2 separate regions of the Homo sapiens genome follow, and region 2 is linked to region 1. The links come from fine-mapping of genetic effects on gene expression. Tissue or cell type: blood mononuclear cells. Region 1 holds a variant in brackets; the other region holds the start of a gene. All regions are shown on one strand. Distances are between the middles of the regions.

Region 1 (8,367 bases):
CACTCCACACATTGCAAGAGTTATTTCTGTTGTGATTCTTTCTGGTAAATGGTGTCTTTGTTTCCTAGTTTCTATTGGTATTTCAGGGATTTTTTTTTCTACATATGTAGACATTTCTTTTCCAAGTACTCATCAAGAAAGATGAATATCAGGTTGACCTGGTCTATATTCATGTTTTAAGATGTGTTGATTGTCTGCAATGTATAAAGCATTGTGAGGTGTTAGAACTGGATAAAGTCTGAAGAAAGCTGATAAAATCAGCATAAGGAGAGGCTTTCACATGCAGACAGACCAAATAAGAAGCTGAGATTTGGTCAGAAAAGATCAACATTCAAGGGCATATGATTGAAAGCTCAAAATCATAAAAGTTATGAATGGAATACATTTGATATTTATTTACCAAATCTTTGAAATTAAATTTAGGCTTATTACTAATAACTATAGCTGGAAGAAGGGGAATTTTAAGTTTTCTTTAATTTTAATTAATTGAAACAACCACACATATACTTATATGGAATAGTGTAGCTTCTAGCCTTTTGAAGTTGATGCAAAAGAGAGAAATGCTGTTAGGGGATAGTCTGATGTGCAGATAAATTGTCTTAAGTCAGTTAAGAAGGCATGGTGGCATCTACTTTATGGGCCTTAAGAGAAAGAGAAATTAGTGAAAGTATAGATTATTAATAAGAAGAATCAAAAATAGAAGTAGGAGAAGGAAATAACTTGGCCCAACTAGACCTCAGGGAAGAAATTGGAGAAAAGATGGCAGTGAGCTCACAAATTTGTGTTTTATTCAAAGGGAGAGGGATTTGATGTCTTCTGAAAGTGTTGATTTTAGTGATAAGTACAAGATAGTGGGTAAGTGAGGAAGCAGGAGATACAACAAGTGTCTTGAGGGTATGACAAGTAATCAACAGATACTTAGTAAGCATCTGTCACATACTCAGTTTAGCAATGAAAGATATTCAGTTCCTGCCCACATAGAGCTTACATTTTGCTGTTGGAGTGGGGAAAAAAAACCAGACATTAAATAATTACCATTCTAAATACGTCTAAATTATTGCAAATAAATATTGCAAAGAGATATGGGACTCATAATAGGGGGCGAGAGGTTAGAGAATACCCTCAACACTGAAAAAAGTGGCATTAAAGCTGTGACACTAATATGGGAGATAGGAGGGCTGAGGTGGAGTGCTGTCTTCTTTCGTATGATCCATCATTTAAGAAATAGGCTGGGTGCAGTGGCTCATGGGAGTGCTGTCTTCTTTCGTATGATCCATCATTTAAGAAATAGGCTGGGTGCAGTGGCTCATGCCTGTAATCCCAGCAGTGTGGGAGGCCGAGGTGGGAGGATTGCTGGAGCCCAGAAGTTTGAGAGCAGCCAGGGCAATATAGCGAGACCCGGTCTCCATTTTTTTTTTCTTAAAAAAAAAAAAAAAATTGGCTGGGTGCAGTGGCTCATGCCTATAATCCCAGCACTCTGGGAGGCCGAGGCGGGCAGATCACCCGAGGTCGGGAGTTCAAGACCAGCCTGGCCAACATGCAGAAACTCCGTCTCTACTAAAAATACAAAAAATTAGCCAGGCGTGGTGGCGGATGCCTGTAATCCCAGCTACTCGGGAGGCTGAGGCAGGAGAATTGCTTGAACCCAGGAGGCAGAGGTTGTGGTGAGCCAAGATCGCGCCATTGTACTCCAGCCTGGGCAACAAGAGTGAAACTCCGTCTCAAAAAAAAAATTAAAAAAAATACAGTTTTTGTCTTAACCCAATACAGTCACAGTACAAACATTCACACACACACACACACACACACACTTGAACCAAAAGATTAATAAAATAAAATTTTTTTAGGCATATACTGTATTTCTGTTTTTTTTTTTAAATGCTGTTGTGGCCCACTAAATAGATTTTATACCCCATTGATGGATTATAGTCATCAGTTTGAAAAACATTGCTCTGAGCCAGGCGCAGTGGCTCATGCCTGTAATCCCAGCACTTTGGGAGACTGAGGCAGGTGGATCATTTGAGGTCAGGAGTTTGAGACCAGCCTGGCCAACGTGGCGAAACCCTGTCTCGACTAAAAATACGAAAATTAGCTGGGTGTGGTGGTGTGCACTTGTAATCACAGCTACTTGGGAGGCTGAGGCAGGAGAATTGCTTGAACCCTGGATGGGGTGGTTGCAGGGAGCCAAGATCAGGCCACTGCACTCCAGCCTGGGCAACAGAGCAAGACTGAGTGCTCTGAAGAATTTGGACAGAGGGAGCAGCATGTGCAGAGCACACATTAGGATGAAATCATAGGTGGGAGCTATGGAATGTGTATCTGGAAAAGGCAAGATCCAGAAGATGCCCCGGAAACAGAGTAGCATAGTGAAAAGAGGGAAGTTGGAGATAATGGAGTCATAACCGAATGGTACGAGCTGACTAACCCTCTTTAGCCATCTCATGGGAAGCTAGGAGGAACAATGTCTTTCATTTGATCTTATGTAGAAGTGAGACATTCCTGTGGAAAGTGTTGAGTTGTGGCTTTGTGAAGCAGACACGAGCCTCTAGTCCTGAGGGAAGTGTGTCTGCGTTTACTGTGGTCCCACATGTAATTAGCATAGCTCTGCCTGTTGGGCTTCCTCATAACCTTTCTCTGGAAAACCACCATTCCAGCCCATGTCAGTCTTCCTCAAAATCCACCTTTGAGGTTGAGATTATTTTCAGCAGAAATCGTAACTCTTTTATATTTTCTCTTATTCTATTATAGTATATTTAAGAAAATACTTATCTCTGAATTAAAACATTAAAACATTTTTAACACATTTAGATGAAATTTAAAAAGATTCACTCGTAGCTTCATCACCTAGACACATGATACTTTTTATTTCTCCTTGTTTCTTTCAAACCTTTCTCTTATGTAAAGTTATAATCGTTGTATGGTATATGTTGTTTTTGCTTTAAGCTTTTTTCATGTTAATTTTCATAAACACCTTTCTAGGGTTTTTTCTGTAGCATTTATCGTTGTTGATAACTTCATTTATAATATTGTATCTTGTTGAAGTACTATAATGCATTTAAGTATGTCTTTATTACTAGATATTTTGTTGTTCCTACTTTGCTACTAAAAGTAATACTATTATGCATATTTTTTATATGTATATATATATATATATATATATATATTTTTTTTTTTTTTTTTTTTTTTTTTTTGAGACTGAGTCCCCGCTCTGTCACCCAGGCTGGAGTGCAGTAGTGCAACCTCGGCTCACAAAAGTCTCTACCTCCTGGGTTCAAATGATTTTCCTGCCTCAGCCTCCCGAGTAGCTGGGGTTATAGGTTGCGCCACCATGCCCGGCTAATTTTTGTATTTTTAGTAGAGATGGGGTTTCACCATATTGGCCAGGCTGGTCTCGAACTCCTGGCCTCGAGTGAGTCGCCCGCCTTGGCTTCCCAAAGTGCTGGGATTACAGGTGTGAGCCACCACGCCTGGCTTTTATGTATATTTTTGTTCATTTAACTGTATTCATAAATTCTTATTAGAATTTAAACATGATGGGCAGGTGTGGTGGCTCACACCTGTAATCCCAGCACTTTGGGAGGCCGAGGCGGGTGGATCACGAGGTCAGGTGTTTGAGACCAGCCTGGCCAACATGGGGAAGCCCCGTTTCTACTAAAGACACAAAAAATTAGTCAGGCGTGGTGGCATGTGCCTGTAGTCCCAGCTACTCGGGAGGCTGAGGCAGGAGAATTGCTTGAACCTGAGAGGCGGAGGTTGCAGTGAGCTGAGATCGCGCCACTGCACTCCAGCTCGGGCAACAGGGCAAGACTCCGTCTCAAAAAAAATAATAAGAAGAATTTAAACATGATAACTCGATATGCATTGCTGAATTTCCTCTTGATTGAACTAAAAGAAGAGACATACAAATGTACCTGTTATCTTATATAGCTTTTCTGGGCATTGGAATTTATAATAATTTTTTCTAGTTAAAGATGTCCCTCATTTTCTAAATTTAAATTTTTTAAATTATTGACAAATACGTTTATTTTTTCCTCCTAATTTTTTTGCCTACTAGTCTTTATTTTAAGATTGTTTAGGATTAGGATTCTTTCCATTTCTCCTGACTATATAATGAAAGAAAATGTTAGTTTTGTTTTAGAAATGTACTATATTCTTTTGAGATGCTTTTTGCTTTAGTTACTTTTAGCCTTATGACCTCCTTTGTTTACCAGATCTTAAGTTTTGATGTCTTACCAGTATTATTTATCACATTTATCCTTAACTAACTACTGCAGTACAAAATACGATCTTATATTAGATGAGCAGGCCGAAGACTCAAAATCAAGTCACTCACACACAAGTAAAAAACACAAGAAGAAAACCCATCACTGTTCTGAAGAGAAAGAAGATGAGGACTACATGCCAATCAAAAATACTAATCAGGTACCTCTAATGTCCAGACTTAGATGTGGAGAAATAAATATTTTATCCCTCTGTAAATGATGTCTTAGTGATATAATTTAGGAGGTAAGGGATAGTTCTAAGCAGAGATGGGTTTGTTCCTAAGAAGCAGAATGGTTGCACTGGGGTATGGGATTTTAATTTTCAAAAATATTTATCACAAATGATAAAAGATCATTTTTGACATAACTTAATGTATCAAATACTTCCACATTGTGAAGCAAGAGTGATTTCCGTACCTGTGGATACTCCTTTATTCCCATCAGAAACAAGTGTGGTTGTGCTGAAAAAGATTTTGTCATTTATCTGCTTAATTTATCACCAAGTGTTATGTATAGCACTTAAGGGCTCTTGAGATTTTACATCCTATAAAACATTTATATCCTGCTGTATTGTATATAAGAAAAACAGCACTGGTAATTAACTTTAGCATGCTAAAAGCTCTCCTGAACAGCACATTTAAAAAAAATAATAAAAATTCCCCAAAGAAAATTTATTGTGAAGAAAAGTGATTATTTCCA[G/A]CCTGTGCTTTGGTTCTTAGTTAAATAAAAAGCAATTTACAGGCTGGGTACGGTGGCTCACGCCTGTAATCCTAGCACTTTGGGAGGCCGAGGCAGGTAGATCGCTTGAGCTTAAGAGTTGGAGACCAGCCTGGGCAACATGGTGAAACCCCCATCTCGACAAAAAATACACACACACACACCTTGACAAAAAGTACACACACACACACACACACACAATTGGCCAGGCATGGTGGTGTGCACCTATGGTCTCAGCTACTTGGGAGCTTGAGAGGATCGCTTGAGCCCAGGAGGTAGAGGCTGCAGTGAGCCCAGATCATGCCACTGCCCTCCAGCCTGGATGACAGAGCCAGACCACGTCTCCAAAAAAAATTTTTTTTTTTTTTTTACATCAGAGCTCCTTGCTTTTGTTTTACCACATAGAAACATTTATGCTGGGCCCTGGTGGATGAGAAGGATTTCAGTGGGCTGAGGTGAGAAGGGAGGGAATTTAAGATGGTGAGAATGTTAACCAAAGATGCAGAAATAGAGAAATGTAGTATGATAGGCAGAGTCAAGGATTTGCTGTCAGGAGAGCTAGGTTTACATACTGCTGGCCATCAAAGTGACCTTGACAAGTTGTTTAACTTTCTGAGCCACAGTTTCATCCTCTGTGAAAAGTGAGAAATACTTCACAGGCATTTTGTTAAGATTCAGTGAAAAAAATGCGTGTGCAAACATTTTCTACACTGGTTATTATTGTTACTACTTTTTTTTTTTAACTGTTAAAGCAAATTACTAGTTTTAGAGTTACTTGGAATAGTTTCTCTCTGTGGTTATGACATTAACTAGATTCATATTTCAGTTAAAGTGTTTCTTTTCTTTCTTTTTTTTGAGACGGAGTTTTGCTCTTGTTGCCCAGGCTGGAGTGCAATGGTGCAATCTCGGCTCACTGCAACCTCCGCCTCCTGGGTTCAAGCGATTCTCCTGCCTCAGCCTCCCGAGTAGGTGGGATTACAGGCACCTGCCATCATGCCTGGCTGATTTTTGTATTTTTACTAGAGATGGAGTTTCACCAAGTTGGCCAGGCTGGTCTCGAACTCCTGACCTCGTGATCTGCCTGCCTCAGCCTCCCAAAGTGCTGGGATTATAGGCGTGAGCCACCGCGCCCGGCCCTGTTTCATTTTTATTTATTTATTTTTAATGTTTTAAGGGTTGCTTTAACAATTTTTTGTTTTGTAGTTTTAAAAACTGTTTCCAAAGTGAAATCTACAAAATGGTACATTTAGAGAACCTAGCTTCCATTCTTGTTCCCTCCCCTTTTCCTTCTTCCCTCTGTGGGTAACTATTTTATGTGTTTTATGGGTTATTGATTTAAAAAAATTTAGCAAGTAAATATTTGATATATGTAGTTAGCTCTTTGCTATAATCCAGCAGAGATAGAATTTCTTCTTTCTATAGCCCTTTAGCTGTTTAAAGATTGCCATCATTCATGCCTCATCCCGTTTTCAGGCCATACTTTTGTTGGTTCCTGCAAATATTTCTCACATGAATCGGTGGTAATAAAAGTAGTAGTAGGCCAGGTGCAGTGGCTCATGCTTGTAATCCCAGCATGTTGGGAAGCTGAGGCAGGAGAATCGCTTGATCCCAGAGTTCAAGACCAGCCTGGGCAACATAGGAGGCCCTGTCTCTATAAAAATTTTAAATAAAAGAAAAAAGTAGTAGTAGTTAATATTTTTTGGTCCTTACAATGTAAGGTGGGTTCTTTTATCCCCCTTTCACACAACAAAGTGAGAACAAAAATTGTTACTTGCCCATAGTTTTACACAGCTAGTAAGTAGTGGAACCACAGTTTAGTTTCATAGTTGAAACTAACTACTCTTAACTTGAAACATACTCCTAACTACTTTTGCTCGTCTTCTTACCTGGGGTATATTCTCATCAGTTTTCTTTCCTAAACTCTAATGTTATTTTAATAAAATTTGTCCCATAGTATAATATTCCAATGTGATCTAATAGGAACACATCTCCTCCTTCTTAAATGTCTGTACTCTATTACTTTAGTCTGAGGTCGCATCAGTCTTCTTTACTGGTGGCTGTATCACATTCCTGTGAATGTTTAGCATGTTTTCCACTAAAAACTCTGAATTCTTTCCCCCTCCATGTGCTGCTTTTAGCTCCAGCTTTTCATCCTGCACTTGTACATGGAACCGTCCATGAATTTAAGCCTGAGATAAATAAACATTGGTGTGTTTGAGATAATCAGAGGTCTAAAAAATTTCAGACTGGTTGTGTTTTTTTTGTGTGAGTCTTTCTGATTCTGCTGTTTGATTACTTGAAACCTTACAGTAGCAAATATCCTTCTCATTTTGCATGGAGTAAAAGCATCAAGATTTTGGGGGAATGCTATTAGTATTTTTAAAAAGATTTTAAGGCAATTTTAAGTTGAAATTTTAAGGCAATATTAACTATAAAATTATTAAATTCTGAATAATGATCTCCTAACTTCTCCCCTTAAAGTATATTAAATTTTAAAAAGTTTTGTACTTTGATTTAATGATATAGCTACATTAATTTTCTCTTCTTCCTAATAAAACTCAGCATCAGTATTTAAGATTTTAATGGCCCCCCGATTTTTTATTATTTTGTTTTTTATTTTTTAAAATTCATTAAAGAGAATTTTCAGTACTAGACAAATTTCAGCTATAGTTCATATTTTCCTGTTTGTCGGTGTTTTGCTTAGTGAGTCTGGTTTCCCAAGAGTATTTTAACTTATTTCTTCAAATTCTTTGTTTTTTATTGAGTAACTAGCCTTACTAATCAATTCGAAAACGTTTGTTTAATTTTCCACCTCATGTCTTAATTCCAGAGATGGTTTTTGTGTTGTTGAGGTTTGGGTTTTACTGGGGTTACAGGAAATGCGTATTCAGCTGGGGGTTGCCTTGCTGAGAAGTATTCATGCTGGTTGTCAGTTTTCCACTGGGGTTTTCATAGTGTTTGTATTCTTGACTGTACTTTTTCTGTCATTTTAGTGATTTAATGTTATCTTGGTGACTAAGATTTAACCAGATCTTTGATTTAGTCCCAGAGACTTGAGCAAGGATAGCTTTTAATTAGATTAGACTTTTTTTGATTGCTTATTTCAAGTCATTTGCTAGGTTAATTGCTTTAAATTGGCCATTTTGTGTTCTTCGTTTTTTCTTTTCTTTTTTTGCCACATGGTAGTTTAATCATCTTGTCTTATGTTTTAAATGTATAAATAATATAACTTTTAAAAATTCATACTGGAAAGGACCTAGACCTTATCTAATTCATTTATCTCACTTTAGATATGAAGATACTGATCCCACAGGCCCTTAGGCCTTTATAGTGGGAGAGCTAGAATTTTAACATTTATTTGGTTCAGTCAGGTGTTGGATTTTTTCCC
Region 2 (8,000 bases), 34 kb before region 1:
CCTCCCAAAGTGCTGGGATTATAGGCGTGAGCCACCATGCCCGGCCTGGAAAGGCGTTTTCTTACCACCAATGGATCCCCTATAAAATATCACCAGGAAATTAATACATTACTATCCTCAGTTTTCCTTCCATGAGAAATCGCAGTAATGCATTGTAGGGGACATCAAAAGGGAACAGATGAGGTAGCTGAAGGAAACAGATTAGCTGATCAGGCAGCTAAGTCAGCGGCAAGAAAGCCTCAAGACATTAACACTTCAAACTCCTCTAGTGTGGGAAGGCTCCATCAGAGGAATTAAACCTCAGTACTCCCCTACAGAAGCAGAATGGGCCACTTCTTGAGGGTATACATTTCGGCCCTCAGGATGGTGACAGTCGGAGGATGGCAAGCTCCACTTGCCAGCCTCTAGCCAATGGAAAGTCCTTGAAGTCCTTCACCAAGCTTTTCACCTGGGAAAGGATAAGACATATCAATGTGCCCAGAGATTGTTTTCAGGAGATAACTTACTAAAAACAGTTAAGGAGGTTGTTAATGCTTGTGAAGTCTGTCTTAAAAATAATCCTTAACAGGCGACTCCTTCCTCCTCAACCCCAAAGAATAGGAGGTTATCCAGGAGAAGACTGCCAAATAGACTTCACCCACATGCCGAAGACAAAGGGCATCCAATACCTGCTGGTATGGTCAGACACCTTCACTAACTGGGTAGAGGCATTCCCATGCCGTACAGAAAAAGCCTCTGAGGTAATAAAAGTGTTTGTTAGTTAATGAAATAACTCCCCGCTTTGGTCTACCTAGGTATCTTCAAAATGACAATGGACCCTCATTTAAGGCAGCTGTCACACAAGGGGGTCTCAAAAGCACTAGGCATAGAATACCATCTCCACTGTGCTTGAAGACCCGCATCCTCAGGAAAGGTAGAGAAAACTAATGATATGATCAAGAGACACATCAGAAAATTAACCCAAGAAACTCACCTTCCTTGGGTCACTCTTCTTCTTATGGCCTTACTACGAATAAAAAGTACCCCTTCAAAACTTCGTCTTAGCCCTTTTGAGATGCTGTATGGATGACCTTTCTTTACCAATGATTTTCTATTAGATCAAGAAACCTCTGAGCTAGTCAAGCAGGTAACTTCTCTGGCTCACTTGCAACAGGAATTAGCACAATTAGCAAAGCCCCAACCCCAGGAAATTGGACCACCTCTATTTAACCCAGGAGATTTGGTACTGGTGAAGGCTCTCCCTTCTCTCTCTTCCTAAGCCCAAGCTGGGAAGGGCCTTACACCATTCTTTCAACTCCCTCAGCAATAAAAGTTACAGGAATCAACTTTTGGATACATCACACTCGAGTCAAAGCCTGGAAAGCTGAGGGAGCAACCCCTGACAGCCCAGAGAAATGACCTGAATATCAATGCGAAGAAGTAGGAGACCATAAGCTGAAAATCACAAAAGATAAGTAACGGAGTAAGAACCACTCACCTTAGTCTCGCCTCTACCTCACCAAATACTTTTTGCCGTTTCTACCTCTCCTTTTAAGCCAAGTATTACTATATACTATAGCACCCTCAGGGTGTAATATCGAACAGAATCTCAATTACTGTAGCATTTTGCTTAATTACTATCCTTACAGCAGGAATAACAGTTATTAACCAACAGTAAACATGAGTGTTTTACTATCACTAGGTCTGTTAGGATTTTTTATGGGACTTAGTAATACGTCACACCCTTTAGCTCCTACAATATCCGCCATGGCCCATTTCTACAACAAGACTAATTGTTGGGTCTGTCCTAAATGGTTTGCTCAGTTCAACAGCACTGAGGAACCTTACAATGACCCAGAACTCACAGTCTTAGGATTCCCTTTGTTGGCTTTACTTTTAACCCTTAAACACATATCAGGCATAAATGGAACATGGTATGGGAGCACTTTCTTTTTTTTTTTTTTCCTCGAGACGGAGTCTCGCTCTGTCACCCAGGCTGGAGTGCAGTGGCGCAATCCCGGCTCACTGCAACCTCCACCTTCCGTGTTCAAGCAGTTCTCCTGCCTCAGCCTCCTGGGTAGCTGGGATTACAGGCATGCGCTACCACACCCAGCTAGTTTTTTTTTTTTTTTTTGTATTTTTTATTAGAGACGGGGTTTCACCATGATGGGCCCGGCTGGTCTCAAATTCCTGACCTCAGGTGATCCGCCCACCTCGGCCTCCCAAAGTGCTGGGATTACAGGCATGAGCCACCACGCCCAGCCATGAATATTGTGGTGGCAGTCGCTGTGGCGGGCACCTGTAGCCCCAGCTACTGGGGAGGCTGAGGCAGGAGAATCGCTTGAACCCAGGAGGCGGAGGTTGTAGTGACCTGAAATCGCACCACTGCACTCAAGCCTGGGCAACAGATCGAGACTCCGTCTCAAAAAAAAAAAAAAAAACCCAAACCGAAAAACCATATTTATTCATTCAACAAACATTTATTTGCACATTGTGTACCAGGCTGTCATACGCATTAGGGATATAGCTTTAAACAAAACAGACAAGATGGAATATCCTGGAACACACATTCTAGTAACAATAAACAAACAAACAAATTCGTAAATAGCATGTTAGATTGTAAAATGTACTCTGGAGAAAAAGCTATATGGAGAAAAAGAAGTGTCTGTGGGGTTAATTTTAATTATGGCAGCCATGGAGGGCCTCACTGACAGGGTGACCGACGCCAAAGCGCCTGAAGGAGGTGAATGGGAGCCATACAAATAACTGGAGGAAGAGGTCCCTCAACCAAGGCAAGTGAAAAGGCCATGGGGCAGGAGTATGTCAGCAGTGTTCAGGGAATAGCAAACTGTCTACTGTGGCTTCAGAGGAATAAGAAGATGGCGTAGGATGGGGTAGGAGAGGATCTTGTAAATCATTATAAAAGCTCTGGCTTTTCCGCCAGGTGCGGTGGCTCAAGCCTGTAATCCCAGCACTTTGGGAGGCGGAGGCGGGCGGATCCACGAGGTCAGGAGGTCGAGACCATCCTGGCTAACACGGTGAAACCCGGTCTCTACTAAAAACACAAAAAATTAGCCGGGCGTGATGGCGGACACCTGTAGCCCCAGCAACTCGGGAGGCGGAGGCAGGAGAATGGGGTGAACCCGGGAGGCGGAGCTTGCAGTGAGCCGAGATCGCGCCACTGCACTCTAGACTGGGCGACAGAGCGAGACTCCGTCTCAAAAAAAAAAAAAAAAAAAAAAGCTTTGGCTTTTCGTCAGATGTGAAGTTATTGGAGATTATGTGTAAAATGTCATAAGAAAGAGTGACAGGCTTGCCCAGAAGAGTGTCTGGGGAATAAACTTGCATGGCAAAATGTTAGTTTTGGCCAGGCGCAGTGGCTCACGCCAGTAATCTCAGCACTTCGGGAGGCCAAGGCGGGAAGAGTTCGAACTCCTTGAGCTCAGGAGTTTGAGACCAGTCTGAGCAACATAGTGAGACCACCTCCCCCGACCGCCATCTCTACAAAAAATAAAAGAACAAAATTAGCCGGGCGTGGTGGCGCGCGCCTGTGGTCACTTGGGAGGCTGAGACAGGAAAATCGCTGGAGCCCGGGAGGTGGAGGTTGCAGTGAGCCGACATCGCGCCACTGCACTCCAGCCTGGGCAACAGAGCGAGACCCTGTCTCAAAACAGAAAACAAAACAAAATGTTAGTTCTTAGAATCGGAAACCCCTAGTAGAGGCCCAAAGTTGTTTTGCGAAAAGGAGACTGACGAGGAAACCCGGAGGAGTCCGCCCAAATAGGTGGAGAGAAGATCCCGCCGCGGGCGCCCCCTGGTGGATAAAAGGGCCGCGCGGAGGGCCGCTCTGCTCTTGAGACGGACACAAACGGGGCACAAAACACTATACTGAGACCGTTCTGAGGGACAGGCTTCCACCAAAATCGCCAAGGGCGGACCAGGATTTTCAAAACGGCCGCGCCGGGGGCGGGACCAACCCGATCCGTAAGTCAGCTGGGCAGCCCGGCGCCCGCACGCCGACCGGAAGGAACTGCTCGGAACCGGGGGCGGCGCCGGCGAGATGACGCAAAAGGGGTCGCGCCGAGGGTGACGCGTGGCGTAGACGACGCCGTCGGCCTGCGCCTGTCACCCCCCTCCTCCCGGGGTTTGTAGCGGAGGAGGAGCGGGCGCCATGGCGGTTCTACTGGAGACCACTTTAGGCGACGTCGTCATCGACTTGTACACCGAAGAACGGCCGCGTGGTGAGGCTTGAGCCCCACTCACCTGTCGCCGGGGCCCCCGAGCTTGTCTCCCTACTTTCCCTTCTCTGCGCAGTCCAGGGCAGAGATTGGCTAGAGCTCGAGCTTCTGGGCTGCTGGTGCCCGCGACTGGGCTATTTTATTAACCGGCCTTGGCTAGAAAAGTTTTTGTGACGGGAATTCGTTTGAGCCTTGGCAGCCCTTCTCCCGTATTTTGTGTTGGCCAGTCCGGTGGACGGTGCTTGCGGTCATTAATTGCCTTTGGGAGTGTGTGTGTGGGGCGTGTGTGTGTGTGATTCGAGCTGCACATACAATACCCATAGCTTTTGTGCCTTTATTGTGTTTACTCGTGAGAGGAACATAGGAACTATTGCTTGGTGTGTAATCGGTTAAATCTTGATGAAGGCAGTTAGGGTGTGCTTGGCGCAGCGAGTGTGGGCATACCGCTTAGGTGGAGGAGGAAGAGGTTGTCTGGAGTGTGGACTGAGCCTTCGAGGCACTGGGCTAAGTCCTGGGCTTGGCTTCTTGCCCCCGAGGGTCTGATTTTTCCACTGGGGGAAGTAGACACAGGAACCCATTTTAGTTTTCTATGTGTTATGGTAGAAGAATGTGTAAGTTGCCACGGAAACCAGAAGAGGGCGGCTTCTTTGGTGGGGGGTGGGAAGAAGCAAAGCTAGCGAATACTATATAGAACACTTGAACTAGTTCTTTCAAAGATGAATGGGAATGAGGGTTTTCTTAGCTTGGACTTTCTTTGTTTGGAATTTTCTGGAAACGGCAAGTAGTTTGGTGTGGCTGGAAGGACTGGTGTGAGTCGTGGAATGGTAGACTCGAGTGTGGTCAGATACGCCTAGGTCAGTCGTGAATAGTCTTGTGTGCCCTACTGATGATCAGAGTCCTTGAAGACTTTAAAAGCAGGATTGAGGCATGGCATACTTGTTTTGAGAAGATAATAGGCAGCGGTGTGGAGAATGTATCAGAGTCAGGAAGAAACTGAGACCAGGAGAGATTAGTTACAAACAGGGTCCTACCCACATGGAATGCAGAGCCTATCAAAGAAGGTGAAATAAGTTGCAATATTGTACAATAACTACCTCCTGCCGTGCTCCGCTTTCCCTCGCACGCAGCTATTCCTCCCTCCTCTCCACCTGGCGAAAACACTACAAACTCTCCCGTACCATTGTTACCATTCTTTTGCTGTTTCTTCTAAACAATATTCTTCTCCACTATTGTCCTTCTGGCAAACTTACTACTTATTATCTAAATCTCAGATCAAGCATCATCTCTTCTTTGAAGCTCTCCCTCCTTTCTAAGCAGAGTTACCTGAGGGTTCCTCTGCTGTGTCTTAGGTCTTTTATAAACCACATGACACATTTTATTTTAACATTTACCTATTATCCTGGTGTTGTTTACAAGCGTGCCCTCGCTCAAGAATGTAAACTCCAATGAGAGCAGGAACTATACCATAATTATCATCTCTATATCCTGAGTACCCAGTACAATGTCTGCTACTTTTAGGGCACACACTAGAGGTTCATTATGATGACTAATGGATATAAATGTGTTGTATTAGTTAGGACCCTTTGTTCAAGTGATAGAAACCCAACTCAAACTGGCATAAACAAAATAATTGGTTGCCTCATAATACTGGGGTAAGCTTGGATCGAGTGGCTGGATCGAGTGTTTCAAAGAATATCATAGGGAATTTTGTTTTTTATCTCTTGATTTTGCTTTTCTTTGAGTTCCTTTGACGCTCTGCCCATGTAGAGTAGCACCTGGCAAAATAAATGGGCCTCTTTTCCCAGAGTTATGAGGAAATAAAGGGGTGTAGAGCTACCCCACCCAATTAACAAGCAGTGGGTCTGCAAAGATAAGCCCATAACAATAAGTCCACCCCCTGTACATATTTGTAAGCATATGACTGGAGATGTGCTTACATGTGTACCTGCTATATTTATACTCACTTATCAATCTATGATCAACATATCCAGACTTACCTACCTTCCATTCTTTCTTCCTTTTCTTTTTTAACTTTTTATTATAGAAAATTTAAAACACAGATGTAGAGAGAATCATGTAAATGAACTCTCATGTCCACATGACCAGCTTTGTTTAACAGCTGTGAACACATAGCCAATCTTGCTTCATTTATAATACCCCCACCTCCAGTGCATCTATTTAATCTGTAATTACTTCAGTATGTATTTCTAAAATATAACGTCTCTTTAAAAAAAACAAGAAAAAATGGAACTATGAGCTTAAGTACCACATAAGTGACAGGTTAAAAAAGAAAAAAAACTTGACAGGGAAAAGGGAAAAATACTAAAGGAAAGAGAAAAAGTTGTAAAAAAGAATAAAAAAACAGAACCACAGATCTTATCACACTTTGAAAAAACTAGCAATAATTTTTAGTATCATTTAAACTTTCTTATTATCTCATAAACTTCTAAAAAATATGGTGATTTAAATTAGGACCCAAAGTCCATATATTGGTTAAAATGTCTCATATATGTTTTAATCTATTGGTTCTCCCCCTTTTTTCCTTGAAAAAATTTTGAGAAACAACCTGGGTGCTTTGTCTTGTAGAATTTCTCTTGTTTGGATTCGACTGATTATTTACTGGGTGCGTTAACATATTTTTGTGTCCCCTGTTTCCTATAAATTGTTCTTTAGCTTCAGAGCCTTGATTAGGTTCCAGTTTAATGTTTTTGGCAAGAATATTTCATATAAGATAGTGTGTACTTTCAGCTGCATCACATTCAGGAGGCACTTGATGTCTGGTTGGCTCTGTGATGTTAAAATTGGTCAGTGGGTTAAGGCCTTGTTGCGCTTATAAATTGTTCCCATCGGATTTTGATGAAAGACCTAAAGATTTTGGCAGCCATTGATGATCATTGCCTAAATTCATTATTTTTGTTTCTAGTAAAAGGACCACCCCTATCTGTTAAACATGAAGCCCAGAAATATATTCAAGAAAAACAACTGCAAGACTGATATTCAGCACTCTTCAACAGCTCAGCCCCATCTTATCTCTCCAGTCTTTTCATGCTCTATTACTGTGTAATACCAGACTATTACAGAACTTTGGTGTTTTGGACCTCCCCTAAAACATTTAAATTTCCACTTCCAGGCCTTTTCATAGTCTTCCAGACCTAAAATGCTCACCCTTCACTCTCTGCTAGTCCAGTTCTTTTAATGCTTGCCTTAACCTTCCCTGAGGTTTTCTAATTTCCCTAGCCAGAAACAATCTTTTGAACTCTTGTGGAATTTTTAAAACTACTTTTTTTACCATTTTAAATAAGTGGCACACATGTTATTAATTAGATATGCCCAGTATGTAACTACTTGTGTTCAGATGTAAGGACCCTAATTTAATGTAAGCTTTTTGAGGGCAGGGATTGCCTCATATATCTTACTGTCTGTTTGGTTTCTAACTTAGTGCCTTAAGAGCTTGTTAATGTGTCTTTCCACGACTAGACTGTGAACTTTTTGGGAGCAGGGACCACAGTTTAATGGCATTTGTGATGGCAGTGTCAGGCATCTAGAAGGTACTCAGTAAATGTTTATTGGATAAGCAGATTAACTTGTATGAGAAAGGTTGTTCATAAGTGTATGGATTTTTATAAAGGGCTGTTTAACTATTATTTAAAAAATGACCCCGGGTGTTTGACTTTTTCCTAATTGATATAATCCGTATCCATTTTTATATATTCTGCTAGATCCTTTTCTACTACAATATGCTCTTTAAGTGTTCTTTTTTCTCGTAATAAAATCAATCCATCA

The links. PIP is the estimated chance that this variant, and not a neighbour inherited with it, causes the effect.
Region 2: it holds the start of PPIL4, and the variant in region 1 is fine-mapped to the expression of PPIL4 in blood mononuclear cells (TOPMed, PIP 0.98).

The regions. Positions count from the first base shown.
Region 1 is chr6:149,508,210-149,516,576 of GRCh38, reverse strand. It overlaps PPIL4 (peptidylprolyl isomerase like 4), which reads left to right. Exons shown (of 13, transcript NM_139126.4): 12 at 4,275-4,422. Among named protein-coding and RNA genes, the nearest start is that of ZC3H12D, 27 kb to the right of the region's middle. The variant G/A (reference allele first, on the strand shown) is at 4,962.
Region 2 is chr6:149,542,156-149,550,155 of GRCh38, reverse strand. PPIL4 (peptidylprolyl isomerase like 4) reads left to right here and starts at 4,113. Exons shown (of 13, transcript NM_139126.4): 1 at 4,113-4,220. The coding sequence starts at 4,151. RefSeq lists enhancers at 2,544-3,220, 3,924-4,223.